Linked DNA regions of Homo sapiens. The protein of the gene in region 2 interacts with the protein of the main gene of each other region in a biochemical or structural test. Each region holds a gene or a part of one and is shown on either strand. Other genes may lie near its edges.

Evidence for each region. The genes of interacting proteins can lie anywhere in the genome.
Region 1: the proteins of USP6 (region 2) and MYL2 form a complex in vitro, tested with the Homo sapiens proteins (one study listed by BioGRID and IntAct).

Annotation. Positions count from the first base shown.
Region 1 is NC_000012.12:110,917,572-110,924,915, forward strand, and holds the start of MYL2 (myosin regulatory light chain 2, ventricular/cardiac muscle isoform), read right to left. Parts: upstream 3,009-7,344; 5' UTR 2,959-3,008; coding exon 2,956-2,958; intron 1,623-2,955; coding exon 1,533-1,622; intron 1-1,532. UniProt on the Homo sapiens protein: Contractile protein that plays a role in heart development and function.
Region 2 is NC_000017.11:5,133,017-5,140,038, reverse strand, and holds part of USP6 (ubiquitin carboxyl-terminal hydrolase 6), read right to left. Parts: intron 6,597-7,022; coding exon 6,489-6,596; intron 6,153-6,488; coding exon 6,043-6,152; intron 4,806-6,042; coding exon 4,757-4,805; intron 4,232-4,756; coding exon 4,111-4,231; intron 3,400-4,110; coding exon 3,305-3,399; intron 2,919-3,304; coding exon 2,853-2,918; intron 2,389-2,852; coding exon 2,289-2,388; intron 1,919-2,288; coding exon 1,766-1,918; intron 785-1,765; coding exon 365-784; intron 1-364. UniProt on the Homo sapiens protein: Deubiquitinase with an ATP-independent isopeptidase activity, cleaving at the C-terminus of the ubiquitin moiety. Catalyzes its own deubiquitination. In vitro, isoform 2, but not isoform 3, shows deubiquitinating activity.

The DNA of each region.
Region 1 (7,344 bases), on a different chromosome or scaffold from region 2:
CCCACACCGCCGGCAGCTGATGCCAGAGGCTGGGAAAAGAGGCGGGTGTAGCTTTCTGCCTGGAAGGTGACTATCTCAAGTTCAGATATGACACTTGCCTCAGGAATTTCTCTTTCCCTATGGGACACGGCATTCCTGCAATCTGAATGTTAGTGAGGACAAAAGGTACGACTGTTCATTTCCTGTTTGGAAGCCCCAAATGGTTTCCCCTTTGATATAAAGCACACTAGGGCAGGGTGTAGTGGCTCATGCCTGTAATCCCAGCACTTTGGGAGGTCAAGGCAGGAGAATTGCTCGAGCCCAGGAGTTTGAGACCAGCCTGGGCAACACAGGGGGACTCAATCTTTACAAAAATCACAAAAATTAGCTGGGCACAGTGGTGTGTACCTGTGGTCCCAGCTACTCAGGAGGCTGAGGTGGGAGGATTGATTAATCTGGGAGGTTGATGCTGCAGGGAGCCGTGGTTGTGCCACTGCACTCTAGCCTGGGTGACAGAGCGAGACTCTGTCACACGCACAAAAAAAGAAAGCAGTCTGGTCTCTTTAGCATCATTTTAGCATAGTTCCCTCTGGAAAGCCAGGTGGGAATGTGGATGAGTCAGTGTGAGCCCTCGCAACGGCTGGAAAATGAATTCTGAGCCTGTCCATCCAAGCCCGTGTGCAGTTTGGCCTAATTGGTACTTTGGTTCTCTTCATAAGGTCCATTGCCATCAAATGCGATGGGGTTTCAAATGGGGCTAGTGGTTAATAATCAAAGACTGTAAAATGTAAAACCCAGAAGATACTGCTTTTCACCTCTCAGACTGGCAAAAAAAAATTGTGACTATTAATACCCAGCGTTGATGGAAATGTGGGGAAAGGCACGAGGCTGCTGGGCATAGGAATTAGTGCTGTGATTTTGGGGGGCAATTCGGACCAGCAGTTCTGCCTGTTTTTAGTTCTTTTGTTGTTGTTGTTTTAAGTTCCTTTGACCCAGCAGTTCTGCTTTTAGGAATTTACCCCCAAGAAATAACCAGAGATACAAGCAAAGAGGTGTTATTTATAGTAGTAAAACATTATAAACAAATGTCATATTTAACCATAGGAAATGGTTTAAATACATGATAGGAAATGTTAATGGTGAATTTCTCAACGAAAAAAATGCAGGTGTAATCAGTGGGCACAGAAGATTATAATTTTGTTTAATAAATATATACATAGATAACAAAAATGGTTTGAAGGGTATATACTAAAATGTGAACTGATTATCTCTGGGTAATAGAATTGTAGGTAGTTTTTATTTCCTTTTCTGTGCTTTTCTGAAAAATTTTCCAACATTTTTCAACATGGAATATGTTTTACTTTGATAATCAGTGAAAATATTAAAAATAGTTTCTTTTAAAAATTCACACATCCGTTCAGGCCGAATTTGGGATTGTTTGGAGGATAGAGGCATCTAATGAAAGGTCCCTGCTGGGAATATGGAACAAAAAGAAGGTTCTCCCTCGTGGGTGGGATTTCCATCCAGGCGGATGATTCAATAGCTGCACCCACCTCCTTAAATTCCTGGATTTGGGTCTGTTCGAACATGGAGAACACGTTGGAGTTGGCGCCCCCGGCTCTCTTCTTTGCTTTCTTAGGTGCCTGGGGGAAAAAAGCATCGATTAAAAGAGTGAGAGGCTGGGAGTCAAAAAACTAGGTCAGGCCCCTACTCTGGGTGTGTTCATCTCTGTTGCAGGGCTCAGCTGCCCATCTGTGAAATGTGGGTACAGCATCCACACTCAGGTCTCCAAACGGTGATGCTGGAGGGAGCAAAGGACATGACATGAAGTTTCTCCAGAGCCCTCTGGTACCAGTGGATCATAAGCGTTTGTGCATCTTGCAGTGGCTCCTTCACCAACTAGGAGAAGCCACAGGTGTGTCCCTGGGGATGGAGGCCACACCTTCAGATCGCCCCTGCAGGATCCAGCCACTTTTGTTCTGATGCATTTCACAAAAAGCTCAGTAATGCACAGAAGGAGAATTGATTGGAGGGAAAGAAAAAGTCAGGCTCACTAAGCCATGATGAATGCCAAGATGAAATGACAGTTCTTCAAGGTGTTAAAACCCAACTGCGCCCCACACCCCACAATTTTCCCTTGCTCCAAATGGCAGCAAAACCTCCTCTCTGAATGCTCCGTCCTTGCACCACATCAATAGGGCAGAGAAGAGCGAGTTGACCTTTCTTCCCCACCCCACTTCTCTCTGACTTTCAATAACAGCAAATGATTCGGTACTCTACATATGTATTATTTAATTCTCATAACCACTCTGTCAAGTGGATACTATTATTATCATCCCCATTTTACAGGAGAGGCAACTGAGGCTCAGAGAGGTTGGGTCACTTGCCCAAGATCACACAGCCACACACACAGAAGGCAGAGCCGGAGTTGAACTTGGGCGTTGAACTTGGGGAGTTGAACTTGGGCATTCTGACTCCAGAGTTCCTGCCTCTAACCACTCTCCCTCCTGTGCTGACCCTGATTTGGGGACTGCCCACTTCAGGAGGGGGACACCTAACCCAACAGCACAGAAAGAAAGGTTTTAAATTTGCAAGTTCAAAAGGTGAAAACAAAAACATTCTTTTTCCCAGCTGCCTGAACAAGAGAAAAGAATTACAATTTGATCCTTAAAAGCATTCAATCCCATTTTGCAAGTCCTGGGAGTTATTGATTCCTCGAGAGGTCAGTAGACAAGCCATAAAAAAGCCAACTCTCTTATTTTGTGTTTGTGAGTCCCCGAGAGCTGCTGTTATTTGTGGCCTATCGGGGCATTGATTGGGGTTCCTCTGTGCCCGCGCAGTCAATGGGGCTTTTTCCACAAGGGGCTGGAGGCTTTGAGGGCCGCCTTCCTCCCCCTCCGCCGTGGTCCCTCGCTTGTAGTGGCTTCCTCTCCTCGCCCACCCGGCATCATCACCTCCTGGAGCCCTTGTACTCACCATGGTGGAAAGGACCCAGCACTGCCTCCCGAGAAGAATTCCACACTCCGCCCAGCTCTCTGCAGCCCAGGAACAATAAATACTTCCTCCCCATGTTTAAAAATAACCCCATGACCGCTTTTGGCAGTCATAGGTGAGGCGGGCACCACCTAAGGCCCCCCCACCCCATGCCGTTCTTCTGAAGTAAGGGTGGCTCACTCGCCACTGGGTGACACGTGAGCCCCCAAAAAGGCATTCAAGGTTAAAGAGGCAGTAGCTGGGTCATGGTCACGGGGAGAGATGCTGCGCGCTCTCTGCGGTGCTTGGGCCGGGGACACTTGTGCTTGTCAATTTTGAGAAAAAAAATGGCAGGGAGAGGAGACTGCTAAAATGCTCTGTTTTATCAGCCTGGATCTGGCCTCAGGGTCTTTGCACCTGTGTGCCCTCTACCTGGAATGTCTTTCTGTCAGTCATCGCACGGCTCCTTCCTTCACCTCCTTCACTGCATCTTTGCTCATATGTCATCTCCTGAGTGAAGCCTCCCCGACCACCATCTTTAAAATAACCATGAAGGCTGGCACTGTGGCTCATGCCTGAAATCCCAGCACGGCGGGAGGCCGAGGCGGGAAGATTGCTTGAGCCTAGGAGTTTGCGACCAGCCTGGGTGACATAGGGAGATGCCTGTCTCTACGCAAAAGAAAAAAAAATAGCTGTGCGTGGTGGTGCATGCCTATAGTCTCAGCTATTCAGGAGGCTGGGACAGGAGGATCACTTGGGCCCGGGAGGTTGAGGCTGTGGTGAGCCACGATCACACCACTGCACTCCAGCCTGGGTGACAGAGCAAGACCCTGTCTCAAAACAAACAAATAACACAGCCACGCACCTCCTGCGCTCCGATCTCCCTTCTTTGTTTCTCTGCACAGCGTGAGGCAGTCCCGAACACTGCCCACAGTGCACTGACTCATTTTCTTCAGCATCTGTGGAGCGTCAGCTCAGAGGGCAGGGATCACTTTAGTTTCCCTCACCACTGACTGTCTCCCCAGCTCCCAGCTCATGATGCACACAGCAGCAGCTCAAAAATAAATATTTGTTGACTGAAGAAATGACAAATCTCATTGACTGAGCACTGGCACGTGCCGGACACTATGTGCTCATGGCTCCCACACATAATTTTCCAGCCACCCTAGAGGGTGGGGACCACCTCATCATCCATGCCCCCATTTTACAGATGCGGAAACAAAAGCTCAGAGAGGCGAAGTGAGCTGCCCAGGGTCACACAGTGATGGAGCTAGGCGTGGACCCCTCTGGAGGCCCCTTTGTCTCCAGAGTCCAGGCTCTTTAAGAGCCTTGAAAACAGCAGCTGCTCTCAGAATGCAAGGTGTCATTATATAATACTTTTACTGAAGACAGCTTTCCTGCTGGGTGCAGTGGCTTATACCTGAAATGCCAGCACTTTGAGAGGCTGAGGCGGGTGGATCACTTGAGTCAGGAGTTCAAGACGACCTTGGCCAACATGATGAAACTTGTCGCTACTAAAAATACAAAAATTAGCCAGGCGTTGTGGCGCGGGCCTGTAGTCCCAGCTACTCAGGAGACTGAGGCAGGAGAATCGCTTGAGGCCGAGAGGCAGAGGTTGCAGTGAGCCGAGATAGCGCCATTGCACTCCAGCCTGGGCGACAGAGTGAGACTCTGACTCAAAAAAAAAAAAAAAAAAAAAAAGGACGGGCATGTTGGCTCACACCTAGCACTTTGGGAGGCCGAGGCGGGTAGATCACCTGAGGTCAGGAGTTCAAGACCAGTCTGGCCAACATGACAGAACCCCATCTCTACTAAAAATACAAAAATTAGCTGGGCGTTGTGGCACATGCCTGTACTCCCAGCTACTTGGGAGGCTAAGGCAGGAGGATTGCTTGAACCCAGGAGGCGGAGGTTGCAGTGAGCCGAGATCGTGCCATTGCACTCCAGCCTGGGCGACAGAGCAAGACTCCATCTCAAAAACAAAGACCAAAAAAACCCCAAACTAAACCAAAACAACAAAAGATGGCCATCTTCCTGTGCCCTTAAAGACAGCCTTGGGATTCAGGGAGCAAGAACTCGGGGCTTGGAATCATTGTGGTTATTTAGTGTCCGTGGGTGGCAGGCCTGAGTGCCAGAGGCCACACCTCTAAGAAGGAGAATGTCCCTCTGCCCTCCCAGTAGTGTGGGTGCGGGGCTGATGGCTGAACCAGCATTCATTCCCCTTCATCGAGCCCAGCGCAAAGCAACAAATTCCCTTCCCTTGAGGTGCGTAAGTGCGAGGGGAAGATGGACAAGGAGAAAGTAAACAAATGCACAACCCAGACAGTTGCAGGCAGTGACGGATCTCATGCAGGGATGAGACAGAGGCATGGCAGTGGCCAGGTGACAGCCTCAGACAGGGGCGCAGGTGGGCTCCTCCAAGCAGAGTCTGCAAAGGGGGCTCCAGGCAGTGGGGACAGCACATACCTCAAGGCAGGGAGAATTTGGAGGCTTTGAGGAACAGAAGGCCCCCTGGGGCTGGAGTTTTCCAGAGCTTAAAAAAAGAAATCACTTTTCTTATTAGGTTTTCCAGAGGGTAAAAGGAGGTGAGACCTGGCAAATGGTAGCTATCACTCACTCCCCTTCTCAGGTGGAAAAATAATCTCAATTTGGGGGCACACAAACCCAAGGACCATTGATGGCTGTGACAAAAAAAGGTGTGGGTTTTTTTCTTCTCTGCAGTCCCACATGGGTTAGAGTTACCCAGGACACTCTTCTGACAGATCTTTAATAACAAAAGATGTGTTCATGTGTGTGTGTAGGCACATGCATGCACAGACAAAAACACGTCTGCACATGCATAGAGGCACACAGACACGTGCATGTACACGCATCCACATATGTGCAGTGCACACATCAAGAGGAGCTTTTCTGTCCAAGGTTCTCTGACAACACCAGAATAAATGTTTCCCTAGCTAATAGGCACACCATAGATTTTCGTTAAAACCCTGTGTGAGCAGTCAGTAGCTCCAACTGGCCAAGTGAAAAGGTTGTTGCAGCCACAGAAGATGTGGAGAGTGTATGATGGGGGGTGGGAAGCCCCGGGGTGGGGATTAGGATGGGCTGGGCCCCCAGAGTCGAGTGGGGGTGTGTGTCCCTGAGGGACACCTGTACAGCCAGGCCTCCAGAAGGGGTACTAGAGGAACCATTCTGGCTGGATAGCAAGAGGGGTTGTCAAATAGGGCACTCACCCTCTCGGGCCTGTTTCCTCACCTGGAAAAGGGAGATCACACACCTCCATAAGGCTGCTGGGAGGATTAAGTGAGATTGTGTCTAGGGATTCTGGGAAATGGCGGCCTGAATGGGGCATGGAACCACGTGGCTGCTGGGACGTGGAGCACGTGGGGTGTGGACTAGGCCTTGGGGTCTGTTGAGAGAGCCAGAGATCCAAAGTCTCTCTCATCAATGGGTTGTGTTGCCCCAGGGAGCCCCCAAGACCAGGGACAAGGCCCTGGGATTGGAGAATCCAGGGAGGACTTGGTTCTTTGTAGACTTCAGGGGTTCCTTTCAGCATCAGCCTCAAGACTGCGGGGGCTGGGGAGGGAGCGAGTGGGCGGCTGGGGCTGTTGTGCCCTGCCCTCAAGGCTGGGTGGCGGAGGCCTCTTGCTGAGAAGCACATGCCCACAGGACCTGAGACCCCTGCCTTTTTGCTACCTGTGGGATTCCTACAGCTAATAAGTTTCCAGCAGCTAGACCTGAGTCCCACTGAATAGAAGAGAAAAATAACTGCTCACTTGAGGCTGTCAGAAGCCAGAGAGAAGCACAGTGGGCCGATCCATCAGAATAGCAACTTCTAGAATATCAGAAACCCAAGTGTATTTGTTTCTTATTGCTGCTATAAAAATATTACCGATGTGGTGGCTTAAAACAGCACTTCTTTTTCTTTTGAGACAGGGTCTCACCCTGTTGCCCAGACTGGAGTGCAATGACACAATCATAGCTCACTGCAGCTTCGAACTCCTAGGCTCAAGTGATCCTCCTCTTTTGGCCTCCCAAGTAGCTGGGACTATAGTCACGCACCATCACGCTCGGCTAATTAAAACAATTTTTTTAGTAGAGACGGGGTCACATTATGTTGCCCAGGCTGGTCTTGAACTCCTGAGCTCAAGCCATCCTCCTGCCTCAGCCTGCCAAGATGCTGGGATTACAGGCTCAAGCCACCACACCTGGCAACGTATTTATTATCTTGTAGTCACAAATAGGACTGTGTTCCTTCTGAAGCCTCCTGGGGAGAACCCGATTTTTGCCTTTTCTACCTCGGAGGATTCAGAGGTTGGAGTGATGAGGACCACGAAGCAGGGAATGAGGCACCGACACTCCTTGTGGACCACGAGGTCCCCACATTCCTTGGTT
Region 2 (7,022 bases):
GGTTGGCTTTGTGATCTGGGGGCTGGTGTGTTCCATCTGTGCATGTCTTTCAAGCTGCACGCTTTCTTAATAAATTTTCATAAGTTTAACAAAAAATAAAACAAGGATGCGAAGCCTGCTTGGATTGTTAAGCCTCGGGAAATTATCCAGCCATGAGCCCTGGCCCAGATGCTTCTAGAAGCCTGGAGGGAACTGAGAACTTTCCAAGTAGAGGTGGCAGAGGCAAGGCCCTGAAGTGGGAGCGCACTGCTGCTCGTCCCTAGCTGCAAAGGAGGTATCCCGGTCGGAATCAGTGCTGGGTGCACTGCAGGGCCGGGAAGTCCATGCCCACATTGTGGCTCAGTGCAGTGAAAGCCAACCTCACCCTCTCCGCAGTGTTCAGCCTGCCAGCAGGTGGCCAGCTGGTCCTCCTGGGATATGGCACGGACCCAGCAGCTCCATTCAAAATCATAATGGGGGAACCAAGGGCCCCCTATATCCAGGTCCGTTGGGAGCCGGGGCATTGACTTCCACTCCAGGAATCTCCAGGAACCCTGAGGTCCTCCCTGAGCCAGGGCCAGGCTGGGCACACCCTGAGTGCCCACAGGGTACGTGTCTTCCCGGACAGCCCCACCAGGACAGGGCGTGGAAAAACGAGATGCCCATGGCGGGGAAGCTGAGCAAATGGGCCGCTGGAACTGGGCTGGTGGGCCTGGAGGGGCCTGCCTATACCCCTTGCAGAGGGTCTTCCCACCACGTGAAGCCGGCACAGGCCTGGGTGCCAAGGACCCTTGCTCGCGTTTGGCTGAAAGGAAAACAGACGTGGTCAGCATCTCCAGTGAGCCCATGCAGGCCTTTCCGGGCTGGGCCCCACCTGCCTGCATCTCTGGAGTCCTTGGGGTCTCTGTGTGGCCCCTGTGGTCTGACACTGACGACACGCCTGTAGTCTGCTGATCCCAGAGGGAGGGGTGTGTGCTGCCTGGCATGGGGAAGCCGTTGGGGCATGGTGGGTGGCTCCTGGGACTGCCCCCAGGGTTCAGACTGGCTGGGGGCTTCCTGCCACACACCTTCGTCCCAGGGCTGTTGGGCCTGGGATATGGCCCCCCATCAGAACTCAAGTGGGAGGGGCCTTGGATGTCACCCAGCTCCTTGCCACCTCACATGGGGACCTGTCTCCGCAGTGGGTGACTGGGCCCGGACGTGGGTCACCCTCTGCCCCCCTGGGCTGCCCAGTCCATGCCAGGACTGACCGTTCCCACATCTGGCTGAATTCTTGGCTCTGGCTCTGGGCCCGGGGTCCCGCCTGTGCCCTCTCCCTGAATGCCCTGTGGGTCAGGGACACCCGATTCCCTTGTCTCCCTTGCTCAAGGCTTGTTGTCCTGGCAACCTTGGAGGAGCGTGCAGGAGTGAGGGGCCTCTGCTGCTCTCTGAGGCTGTGGGTGCTTGCAGGGAGGGGCGGGGTCTCCCACAAATGGGTCTGGCTCATCTAGTAACTTTGAGGGCCCTGTGAGGGAGAGAGCGAGACACCGTGGAAAGTGGGAGGGGGCTTGTTGGAGGGTCTTGCCCACATCCCTCTCCTGCGTGCACAACACATCCAGTATACACGCACTGAGTGCCTGCCCTGAGGACCGGTGGGCCTCCTGTACTTTCTTAGAGTCCAGGAGGAAGAGGAGGAAGAAAAGGTGAAGAGGAAGGCCCAGGTAGTAGGGTTGCTGGTCCGGGGCACCCGCCCACTATTGACTGCCCCAGAGGCTGACATGGGAGGGGACATGGCACTGGAGCCCACCTGGGGGTGGCAGGTCCCCTTGCTTCCTTGTTAGTTTCTTCGTAGAGGCCCTAAGATGCTTGAGCACGGTGTCATCGTTCATGGCCCAGGTATCGAAGAATTGGTTCCGCAGACGTGCCCACAGGCCACACCTGGATGTCTTCATGAGGCGCTCTAGGGACAGGGTGGATATCAGGCCAGGAGAGTTCCCTGGGAATGGTCACAGCTCATACCCTGTGGCCACTTCAGTCTCCCACTGGGCGGTGCCGAATCCTTTTGTGGCCACCCCAGGCATCCAGATGTACACAGGAGACTGTGGCTGGGGGGTGATCTGGACAGGGAAGTGCTCACCACACTCTCGACTTTCATCTGGGTCATGTGGGGGATGGGCTCGGTGTCACAGTGCCCTGCCCAGCCCACCTGGCCAGACCTCCCTCTGGGCCAGAACAGAGGATCATGAGGACAGTGTGAGGAAGCTGCCCTTGGGCCAGTCGGGGTCTGACTGCAGGGCTCCCCAGGCCCCACTGGGCACACGTAGACTTACTCTGCTGAACCTTAAGAGCAATGCTGGTTATTGGCATCAACACCTGTTCTCCTTCCACCAAATACACGTCCCACAGGCGCAGGGTGAGCCCGAGAGAGATCTGTGGGGACAGCAGGTATGAGAGAACCTGGCCCTTCCAGGCTGGGGCTGGTGGCTCGAGCTGCGCACACTGGGGCTTCAGTCTCCAGAGTCAGTGACCTTCCCCATGAGGGTCACCTGAGCCCTCCAGAATGCTGAGTCAGAAAAGGTCTTGCAACTTCTCATGGGGGGGTACTCATTTGAGTGGGTATGTGGCTCCTGGAGAGAGGGGCTTGCCCAGGGCTTGAGGCTTCCCTGAGCCCTCTCAAGTTGGGTCCTGACCCAGTCTGCCCATGAGGCTGGACCTGAGTCCCAGCCATTGCCCTGGGATGACCCCTCTTGGGCAGAGGGTTTTGCTTGTGTGTCCTTCGGGGACCCGCCTGAGCCTCCTGTGGGCTGGGAGTGAGCCAGACCCCCGGGCTGGGGAAGCACGGCACTGCAGGGCAAGGAGGGTCCCTGAGCCAGGGTCTCCCTATGCCTCCTTACCCCGTCAATCAGGTTCCGGAGAAGGCAGCCTAACGAGGCACACTGCCCGCATAGACCTTCCTTGTCCTGATGGGATGAACAGAGGTGCTCAGGGCCCCCTGGGCTGCCCTAAAAACCTCCATCTTCCAGGGCCTCTGAAGACCTTTCCCCTAGTGCAGAACACTGGGCGGTGTCCAGAACTCCCCACAACACTGTCCCCTTCCCACACTCCCGGTGGACACACTGCCCTTTGCCCTGCTCTGCAGGAGCTGGGCCCCCATCCCTGTGCCTCTGTCTCCTCCAGGGCATGAAAGGAAACCAACTCCCAGCCCATGGAGAACCCGACGTCCCAGGTCAGGCCCTAGCTGGGACTCCGCCAGTCACCAGTCCCACAAGGGACTCCAGTCCCCCTGCTCCTACAGCCCCACAGGAGGCAGGGCCTCTGAGAAGAGCCGAGGGGACCATAAACTCACCTGATGCCACATGGTCTTGGGTTGTGACTTGGGTACCACATGCTCCTGTTGGTCTTGGAGCCCCTGGACTGTCCCACCATTTGGGCTGTGGAATCCTGAGAAGCCCCCAGCCCATCATGAAATCAGAGCCTTCCCCCAAGGTGTGGAGCCATCAGCTGAAAGAGCTGGGCAGCTGCAGAGGCCCCCAAACCCCAAGGCCTCCCGCCCTCCCATCTGGTGACCCTACCATGCGGCCTTTGCCCTGGGGAGGTGGGACAGGAACATCCCCTGGAGCCTGGCTGGAGGTTCCCCTGGAAGCCTCCTGGGCCAGGGTGCAAAAGGGCAAGCCTGACTTTGAGGCCACAACAGAGCGGCCAGAACAGGGTGGGTGCTGAGCTTCCTGGTCATCTCCTGGAAGTGGGGTCGGGCCAGGGGACACGGGATGGTGAGATGCTGCCACCTGGGCTTGGTCAGCCCATTTGTGGGCACCAAGGGCAGCAGGAGCCCAGGCAGCTGGAGGGCAGGAGGACCCTCAGGGAGGGGAGAGTCAGCTGAACAGAATCAGAGCCGGAGGATGTGGCTCCAGGACACAGAGGGTGGCCATGGGGAGGATGAGATGCCCTCTGCTGATGGGGATGAAAGGCATCTGACTTGGGTTGTGGGGGTCAGCTGCGGACTCCTGTGGGACCCTCAGCAGAGACGTCCTAAATGCTCCCAACAAGCTGGCAACACAAGGAGTGTGCCTTGGCTGAAAGCCGAGATCACCTGGCCACAGTGGCTTTCCCGGGTCTGGCTGCGTGAGGCCCCACGGGCAGCTGTTCACCTACCTGGCAGGGAGTGCCTCTCACTGGCCAGCAGCTGCACCAGTGCCCAGAATGCGTCCTCCTCAGGCAGATAAAGGAGGAACAAGGCGGTGATGTGGCTCAGGTCCCTGCAGTAGCCCACCTCCTGCAAGAGCCAGAGTCACCATGGAAGGACATCACCTGGGAGGGCTGAGGTCACCTGGGAGGACTCATGTCATTGGAGAGGGCAGAGGTGACTGGGGAGGCTTCCTCTGAAGAAGAGGCTTCCTCAGGATGCAAATTCATTTCATGACAAGAGCAAAGTCCATCAGGCACTTCAGCACCTTGTCCAAAATGTCTCCTGAGAGCACCGTCCTGCGTGTGACACTGCCAAGCTCCTTTGCTTTGGAGCAGCCCCAGGAGGAGGGCGTCATTTCTTGTTCTGAGAAGTGGTGGTCAGGCCCAGGTGACACCAGGAGTCCAGGCCCCAAGTCCTTTGTGTCTCAGCTTGACCCCTTGAGACCACCCCCTTGCTTGGAGGTTTATGCCAGCGGTGACCTAGAATCCTACCTCCTATATCCTGGTGAGTCACAAATACCAACTTTAAAAGAAGCAACGACACCCCCACCAGACACCCACTCCTGTGAATATGGAAATACAGCCTGGGAACCTCACTGCCGGGAATACTCACCGGGTTATACTCCGAATAGGCCAGGAGGATGTAGAATAGTTCCCTCTGCCTAGGAAACACAGAAAGGGGGCTATGGTTTGGTTTGTGCAGATGCTGTTAGTTTCACTTTGTCTACAAATCCTAACAAATCCCATTTCAGGTTCAGATGATTCACCAGATAAGCAGTGAGCTCTTCAGGGCCTGAGACTGTTGAAGAAATGTTTCAGTAAAATCCACATCTGTGACATGCAAATAGCCCAGTTCTACAGTGAGTTGACCGATCCTTTTCACGCTGAATGATTTTTTTTTTCTTTTGCACACACACCAGTTCAGTCTTTGGGTGCACAGTTCCTCCATGGTTCCAAACCAATGTGCAGTCTCCCGGCCACCGCTCCAGCCCCTCCTGGAGCGACTCCATCATCTTCCAAATCTCCAGGGTTTCCCCTATGCACCCAGCCTCTCCCCGATCCGTCAGCCCCTGGCCACCCAGACTGCTGCTCAGTCCCTATGGTTTGGCCTTTTCCAGAATGGCCTAGGAATGGGAATCCTACTATGGTAGCTTATTGGGTCTGGCTTCTTTCCCTTAGCAAAATGCATCTAGGATCCACCCACGTTCGTGCAGGCATCACTGGCTCGTTCCCTTTTCTCACTGGGTCTTCCGTTTGAAGGGAGGACCAGCCTGTCTCTCCCCATTCCCGTGTTGAAGGCCATCCCCGAAGGCTCCATGTGTGAGTGATGAGGAATCAAGCAGTGAACCTGGCATGCAGGTTTCATGTGGATGTCAGTTTTCAAATCAGTGGGTTCAATATCTGTGACACCATGGGGATGTGTGGTTCAAGTCCACTGAGCTTTGTGAGCCACTGCCCAACTGGCTGCCAATGTGGCTGTGCCATGTCATGTTCCCAGCAGACCTGGATGACAGTTTCCAGGACCCCTAATTCTCCCAGCATTTGGTGCTGTGTTGCCTGGGGAGGCTCATGGGCCCTCCATCCTGCCACCCTCCTGTGGGTCCTACCATGGGTCTCCGTGGGTCAGGGAGAGCACCTTTCACCATTGCGTGTGATTTTCTTTGCTGTTTTCTGTCTCCTCAGGATCCTCCTGGGTTCTGGCCCCACATGTTCCAGCCTGGCCCAGGGCTTGGAACCAGGGAGGTGCTCGGTTCATGGTGCCGGCTGCTCCCTGGGCCAGGAGAGCTCTTGGCAGCTCTGTCATCCCTCCTGGGTGACCCTGGCTTCTGCTCCGGGGAAGTCCCCATCCCTCTCGTTCACCCCATCTCTGCTGGGACTGTGTGGCTCCCGTAGGCTTACTTGGCTCCATATCGATCCCTAAAGAAGACATGGTTCCGGAGAGTCGTCCTCACGTCCAGGTCGATGTGGTGGATGTGTTCAGATGACCTCTTGCCCCTCTCCTTCATGATCTGTAGGGCAGGGCCAAGAGGAGGAAGCAGCCTCAGAACAGATGGAAGACTCCCTGCCCCAAATGGCAGTCAGCCCACAGTCAGCACTTCGGGAAGGAAGGAAAGAAGGAAGGTTTCCTTCTGCAGAAAGCTGCTTTTTGGCTTGCTACTGAGGCCAGGGAGGGTCACCACAGCCGAGTTTGTCTGTGGTGACTGTGTCACCGTCCATGCCCAGGATGTGCATCTAACCATCCCCTCCCACCCCCCCACCCCAGGGTGGGCTTGACGTTCCCTCCAGCTGGAGACCTGGGCCCCTGACACGGCCTGTCCTGTTTGTTGTGCTCTGGCTGAGCATACCTGGTATCTTCCGGGGTTTTTCAACTTGATTTCCTGAATGTTCAGGAGGACTGACCACACCGGGCCCCGGATGTTCATGGGAATTCCCTTGTACACTCGATCTATGAGCTGTGGGCAGAAAAGAATCTGGTGTCACAGGCCATGGGGTGACCCCAGTGAGGACCAGAGCCTGGGGATTCTGGAAATTGTCAGTTTTGGCCCCATGATTCCTCAGTAGAGGCGAGATCAAGCTGGGACAGGGTCTCCCTTCCCAGGACTGAAAGAGTGGATGGACACTCAGAGTCTAAACTCTGATCCGAACCTTTTCCTTCCTTCGGGTCACCAGGGCATCCCTAGCCTTGAGCTCTGGGTGGTCCCAGCCCTAGATTCAGATTCCCTCCCAGCAAGGTGACACTTGCACGAATAGGCAGGCAATCTGGTGACCAGGCCTGCAGTCCTCTGGGCGAGGACAGTGTGCCACCCGCCCTCTGAGAGGCTGACGGTGCCAGGCCACAGCCATGGGTGCCTGTCCCCTGTTTCTGCAGAGAGTGCTTC